Homo sapiens: one gene and its partner. The protein of the gene in region 1 purifies or fractionates together with the protein of each later gene. This does not show direct contact. Each region holds a gene or a part of one and is shown in the gene's direction. Other genes may lie near its edges.

What was found. Proteins that work in one complex are often made in the same cells at the same time.
Region 2: the proteins of PTCD1 (region 1) and GUF1 purify together in Homo sapiens (affinity purification with mass spectrometry; one large-scale study listed by BioGRID and IntAct). This does not show direct contact.

What each region holds. Positions count from the first base shown.
Region 1 is NC_000007.14:99,421,694-99,425,346, reverse strand, and holds part of PTCD1 (pentatricopeptide repeat-containing protein 1, mitochondrial), read left to right. Parts: coding exon 1-552; intron 553-1,389; coding exon 1,390-1,572; intron 1,573-3,653. Other genes in the region: ATP5MF-PTCD1 (ATP5J2-PTCD1 fusion protein), read left to right, coding at 1-552, 1,390-1,572. UniProt on the Homo sapiens protein: Mitochondrial protein implicated in negative regulation of leucine tRNA levels, as well as negative regulation of mitochondria-encoded proteins and COX activity. Also affects the 3'-processing of mitochondrial tRNAs.
Region 2 is NC_000004.12:44,695,420-44,698,576, forward strand, and holds part of GUF1 (translation factor GUF1, mitochondrial), read left to right. Parts: intron 1-195; coding exon 196-315; intron 316-1,988; coding exon 1,989-2,025; intron 2,026-3,124; coding exon 3,125-3,157. UniProt on the Homo sapiens protein: Promotes mitochondrial protein synthesis. May act as a fidelity factor of the translation reaction, by catalyzing a one-codon backward translocation of tRNAs on improperly translocated ribosomes. Binds to mitochondrial ribosomes in a GTP-dependent manner.

The sequences.
Region 1 (3,653 bases):
CTTGGGCCTCCAGAGCCTCCGGAAGCCAGAGTGCCCGGCAAGGCCCAACCAGAGGTGGATACTAAGGCAGAGCCCAGCCACACAGCAGCCCTCACCGCAGTGGCCCTGAAGCCACCTCCCGTGGAGCTGGAAGTCAACCTCCTGACCCCCGGGGCCGTTCCCCCTACAGTGGTCTCCTTTGGAACGGTGACCACCCCAGCTGACCGGCTGGCCTTGATAGGGGGCCTGGAGGGCTTCCTGAGCAAGATGGCAGAGCACAGGCAGCAGCCCGACATCAGGACCCTCACGCTACTGGCCGAGGTGGTGGAGTCCGGGAGTCCTGCAGAGTCCTTGCTGCTGGCCCTCCTGGATGAGCACCAGGTAGAGGCCGACCTGACATTCTTTAACACGCTGGTGAGAAAGAAGAGCAAGCTGGGAGACCTGGAGGGGGCCAAGGCGCTGTTGCCGGTCCTGGCAAAGAGGGGCCTCGTCCCCAACCTGCAGACATTCTGCAACCTGGCCATCGGGTGCCACAGGCCGAAGGACGGTCTACAGCTTCTCACAGACATGAAGGTGAGTGGACTCGGGCCTGGGCAGGACACCCATGGTGCTCAGGAGCACTCTGCAGCTCAGGAGGAAAGTTTGAGGGGTCTGCAGACCCCCCACCTGGAGAGGATGAACTGTGCATGGGGCAAAGAGAGTGGGGTCAATGACCTTCTGGTCTTTGGTCCCATTTTGGGGGAAGCAGACCCCAGTGAGTGCTTCAGGGCTGGGCGTAGAGACACACGGATGTTCCCATCCGGAAGAAGGTGGCCGTGGGTTGACACAGGGCTGGGCACAGGCCTCGGCCCCAACACTCTAGAGGTATGGCAGGGATTCTCAGAATTCCTGAGGGGCCGTGGGCAGTTTTCAAAGCCCCCGAGGTCTGTGCCTCCCACCTAACCCCCATTGGAAGTGCTGCGTGGATTTCATCCGACCACAGCAGAGGCTGCGTCCTGGGTTGTCGGTGTCCCCAGGTCCATCATCCTCTGGCTGTTTTCCTGGACCCTACCGGGCTCACCCAGCCAAGGCTTGCACTTTTCTAGGCCAACCACCACCTGGTGACCGTGCGTCACAGGAAGCCCACCCCAGGGAGCAAGGAGGTGGTGTCTCCCACATCATTTTCTGCCTGAGTCAGTCGGTGTCTGAGAGCAGCACGAGCGTCCTTTTCCGCAGCTTCTTTAGGGCTGAGCAGAGGGGCTGGGCTTGGCTTTCCTGCTGGAGAGGGATATTCAGCACATTGTTGCTGCCAAGTTTGCCTTGCTGGCCCTGGCCGCTGGTCCCGGGAGCCAGCTTGATTGACAGAGGGTGGGAGCTGCTGGGTCCCAATGGCTGCCATCATCTTGATTCTACGATGTCCCTGTGTTCTAGAAGTCCCAGGTGACCCCCAACACTCACATCTACAGTGCCCTCATCAACGCGGCCATCAGGAAGCTGAACTACACCTATCTCATCAGCATCTTGAAGGACATGAAGCAGAACAGGGTCCCGGTGAACGAAGTGGTCATCCGCCAGCTGGAGTTTGCAGCCCAGTACCCTCCCACCTTTGACCGGGTGTGTGCCCCAAGCTCAAAAGCTCATCAGCTCCTTCACCATTGCTACCCCCTCCCCCCACCACCCAACCCCGGTTCTGGCCCTTGGGATTGTGTTGCCATGCTTGAAACTGTCCAGCAGCTTCCCTTAGGAGCAGTACCCAAGTCTGTAGACCACAGCCTGCGAGTCCCTGTCTGCGTGGCTCATCTCATGTCTCAGCCTTGCGTTTGCTTTCTCTGTCTGTCCCAGTGGCCTTCTGTCAGTTCGCAGAGGCCACCAACCTCTTGCCTGCTTCGGGATTGGTGTTCCCGCTGCCTCAGGTGGCACCCACTTTTCCTGGAGGTCTCTGCTTAAGTGGCCCTCAGACATGCCCAGCTGGCTGCCGCTCTGACCTGGGATGAAAGTCTCCCCTCCCCCTTCCCACTCTGTTCCTTTATGCCGTGTCCTACAGTCTTGGATCATGTGCTCATGGGCAGCCCTGGCCTTCCCTGTATCAGGCTTCTGGAGGCAGAGGCTGTCTGCTGTGCTCATCTGGGTCCCCAGCACCTGCACGTTGCTGGGTACTCCAAACAGGTTGTCGCTTGCTCAGGGACTGGGCAGGCAGTGAAGTGGTGTCATTGTCTGGGGTGAATACCTGAGATTTGTTGTGAGCCAAGATCGCGCCACTGCACTCCAGCCTGGGCGATAGATGGAGACTTGGTCTCAAAAAAAAAAAAAAGAGGTTAAGAGCTGAAGTTTAATAGGCGAAAGAAAGAAGAGCTCTCGCCCGGTGTGGTGGTGAAAAAAAAAAAAAGAGAAGAGCTCTCTCCTTGCAGAGAGAGGTGCCAGAGAAGTGGGTTGCCACTTCCATAGTGTAATGCAGAGGTTTTGTAGATGAGCTTGGGGAGGTGGTGTCTGATTTACAGAGGACGCAAAAGATTAGTTGGACCAGGTGTGCCATTTACATAGCATGTATAAAAGCTGGTGCCCCACCCTAACCTTTTATTATGCAGACAGGTGGCCATCGCCATGTTGCCTGGTTCTTTACTGTACACATGGCAACAAAGAAGGGAAGATGGGGCCCCCACGTTGAACATATCTGGCTCCCAGGTAGCCCTTTTCTGTTGGCACAGCCGCCAGCATTTACCCCTGCAAGCTTCCAGTTTGCTTATCTATGTCTGCAGCTCGATTTTTCAGGCTGCTCTTTGTTAGAAAAGAAATTATTTGGGGGCTGCTTTTTATTAAAAGGGAAATTTCGCCAAGGACTCTGTTGCCCTTATTATCTGCCTAAATAATTTCTTTCAACCTCCTGTATCAGCAGGAGCAGGGCAGAGTCATGGAATCTGCTTTGTCACGGCCACAGCCTCTCCCTGCTGTTCTGAGGCTATCAGGCTCTGGGGTTTGGCTTTTGGGTCCATCGAATCACACTCTGTGCTGAGCATCTCCGGAGCATCGAGAGCCACTATGGCTTGAAGCACAGCCCGGATGGGGCGGAAACAAGTAAATGGGCAGGGACACACACAGCTAGAGGGTGCGGGGTCAGGAACGCCGTGCAGGTGTCACGCCTGAATGCCATTTTGAGGGCTTCCTACAAATAGGTGGGACAGCAATGGAAATTGTGTCTGGCTGAAGGCATAGCTGGGCATTTTTGAACTGTGTCTGTGCTTTGAACTGTTGGTTGCAAGCCTTTTCTCATTGATTCCAGGGTTTTTTATATATTCTGGGTACTGGTTTTTTGTTGATCACATGTTGTGCATATCTTCCTAGTGGATTGTCTCTTCCCTCTGGCGTAGGGCTCACTAGGGGTTCAACTCGACAGTCACAAGACTATCATAGACCTAAAGCATATCATATTTAAGTCACAGACAGATGTCCCTGACTTAAAGATGATTCTACACAGGATTTTTCAACTTTGCAATGGTTTTATCAGGATGTAACTCTGTAAGGATCGACTTTGTGCGGGGTTAGTTTCTACTGAATGTATATCACTTTTGCATAATTATAAAGTCAGGACCCTCTGCTGTGTTGCCAGCAATAGATGCATTTTCCTTTTGTTTTTTATGAGATGGAGTCTCACTCTGTCACCCAGGCTGGAGTGCAGTGATGCGATCTGGCCTCACTGC
Region 2 (3,157 bases), on another chromosome or scaffold:
ATATTCTGTAATCATACATTACTTTTTTAAATCAGAGAAGTTGTTCATGATTCAGAGAGTAAGAGAGATTTATAAGTAAGTTCCATTTGAACCTCCTTAAGAGATCACCTTTACACTGATTATGCAACTGGCCTAGAAAAATACTTGAAATATTCTTATTTAGGATATATAAACAGTTGTATTTTTCTGTCTCAGAGACAAAGCTCATTCAATTGGCAAAGCCATATGTGAACGGCTGAAGGATTCTCTTCCTAGGCAACTGTTTGAGATAGCAATTCAAGCTGCTATTGGAAGTAAAATCATTGCAAGAGAAACGTGAGTTGAAATTCATTTTTGGTCTTGAGCCAGTTTCAGAAATGATATACCTAAAAAGTGAAAGAATATTGAACATTTTAATTTAACATTGGCCTAAGCTTTCTTACTTGTAGAAACAGTATGATGGTGCTCTCCAGTTTTCTGATTTAAGTAATGACTGTTACTTTGAATTACTTATATAACAGCACTGGGTGATGTGATCTGCAGTTAGTATAACGTATACGAGTTTGAGGAACTGTTTTAATTTCCACTCATATCAATGTCTATACTGAATTTCCTGGGTAAGGAATTTCTTTTATGGTTTTATCCCTTTAGGTAGATTATAGATTAATAGAAACTGAAACTAAAAGGTTTTGTCTTCCAAATGACAAAATTACAATTTTTTTTTAACCCAAAGCATTTAATATTGCTTCCCCACTTCCGCAGAGCTAGGGAGGTTATAAATCAAGGAATGCCAATACCATGTTAGGATTTGCATTCTAGATTAGGGACCTCACATGAATTATAGTAGATATGGAAGACAGGCTAATTTGTGTCGGACACTAGTCTTTCATGAAATGTAATACATAAATCAGAACACTGGCTGGGTGTGGTGGCTCACATTCTGTGATCCCAACTACTTGGGAGGCTGGGGCAGGAGTATTGCTGTGAGACTAGTCTGGGAAACATAGTAAGACCCAGTTTTTTAACAAAAACCCAAAAATAACAATGAAGAACACTGAATAAGCTGCTCTGCTTGTGACAGCAGGTGCAGGATGTGTCTTGTAGCACTTCCCATTTCCTTTCCTTAATGATCCTAAGACTTCTAGGAAATAGGAAGTATCTCCTCAGTTATGAAAAGCTGGAAATTGCTATTAAATTCGACCTTAACCCAAACCTAATGAGGAAATACAACCATCATGTTAATATAGACTTGAGGTTAATTTTAGGCCCACTGTTTGAAATACATTTCATTTCCTAACACTGTTTTGCTTTGGTTAGTTATTCTGTGTTTTGTAAATACTGAGATCAGGCAGAGTAGAAATGATAACTAGGGAACATCCTGGAAAGTGCAATTTAAGACAGTTAGCAATTGCTCATTCTAAAATAAGTGTGTTGAGATAATACCTTAAAAAATTGGTTTTTCTGTCTTAAGGAATACATAAAGATGGAGCTATTTTCAAAATTAGAGTGATCTAGAAATTTCTCAAACATTGTAGAAATAGATTAGTTTATAACTGCTGGGGTGGATATATCAAGCTTCCTAGCCACTCCATCCACATTCAGTAGAGGCAGTAATAAGATAATAAACATATTTTGTTTTTCTGAAGTAGTAGTGTTAATTTTTAGATTGGTAATTTTTAGATTGAGTAAAAAATAACCTAATGTATTTCTTGTAATCAAGGTCACATCATGCTTGAATTTGGCCTAATCAAGCCTACCACAAGCCTTGACCATTTTTTCTTAATGTGTGTTGATAAACATGTTGAATTTATTTGTTCTTTTATACCAAGTACATGAAAATAAATACAAGAGCATTTGAAGTATCTAATTAATATGCTTATGGCAATTTTACATAGGTAATGATACTATCATTAAAATTTTCTAGTAAAGGGGAGATTGTTTTTGGTAAGGAAGTGCTTTTAAACAGTATAATGGAATTATGTACTTAAACGAATTTTTCTCTTTTACAGTGTGAAAGCCTATAGGAAAAACGTTTTGGCAAAATGTGTATGTATCTAGTTGTATTTATTCTACTTTATAACTTTTATGGGCTTTAAATCAAAGGGGGCATAAACTTATTGATTTCCATTGTTGGTTTTTATACATTCTTTGTTTCCAAGTTCCCTTTTTGAATAGGTAAATTTCAGCTTGACCATGGCAACCTGTTCATTTTGCCCATATCTTTTAAGTATTTTTTCATCTTATTTATAAAAATTTACAAAAATATTTATTAAAATTGTTCTTATATGTAATACTAAGGAAGATTTTTACAACAGTTATTTCTATGATCTGGGTAACATGTTTTCTTGATCTAACATATAATGAAAGATTTTGAAAACAATGGCTTTATCTTACAGTTGAAGTCTACCTCTCCTGACATTGTTTTGCCAGTTTGCTGTTATTCAGCTGTTAAAAAATTATTCTTGCACCAGCTCGGTGGCTCACAACTGTAATCCCAGCACCTTGGGAGGCCAAGATGGGCAGATCACTTGAGGCTAGGAGTTCCGAGACCAGCCTGGCCAACATGGTGAAACCGCAGCTTTACTGAAAATACAAAAATTAGCCAGGCGTGGTGGTGCATGCCTGTGATCTCAGTTACTCGGGAGGGTGCAGCATGAGAATTGCTTGAGCTCAGGAGGCGGAGGTTACAGTGAGCAGAGATCCTGCCATTGTACTCCAGCCTGGGTGAGAGGGAAACTCTATCTCAAAAAAAGAAAAATTATTCTTAAATATCGTGAGAGTTGAATGATCAATTCTTTCTCCAAAGGCACATTTATTCCTATGTGATTAAGAGTTACCTATATTAGACTGTGGCTTTCTAGTCAAAATTCCAAGCCTAGAATCAGTAAGGAGATTGATAATTCTTCCTTGACATGCATATTATTATACTAGGTTTCCTTGGGAATCTTCACCTCCATCCAGATTAAATCCTGTATCATTCTTTGAGAAGACAGTAAAATTAGATCTGCTAGGAAGATTAGAGAGATGTCTGCCTTATGGATAATAATTTGGTATGGTTGTTAAGGTTGTACTGATGCCGCTGTAATCATATGATTGTTTCTCTTTAGAGTGACTTAGACTTCCAATGTTTTAAAATATTTTTCAGTATGGTGGTGATATTACCCGAAAAATGAAGCTT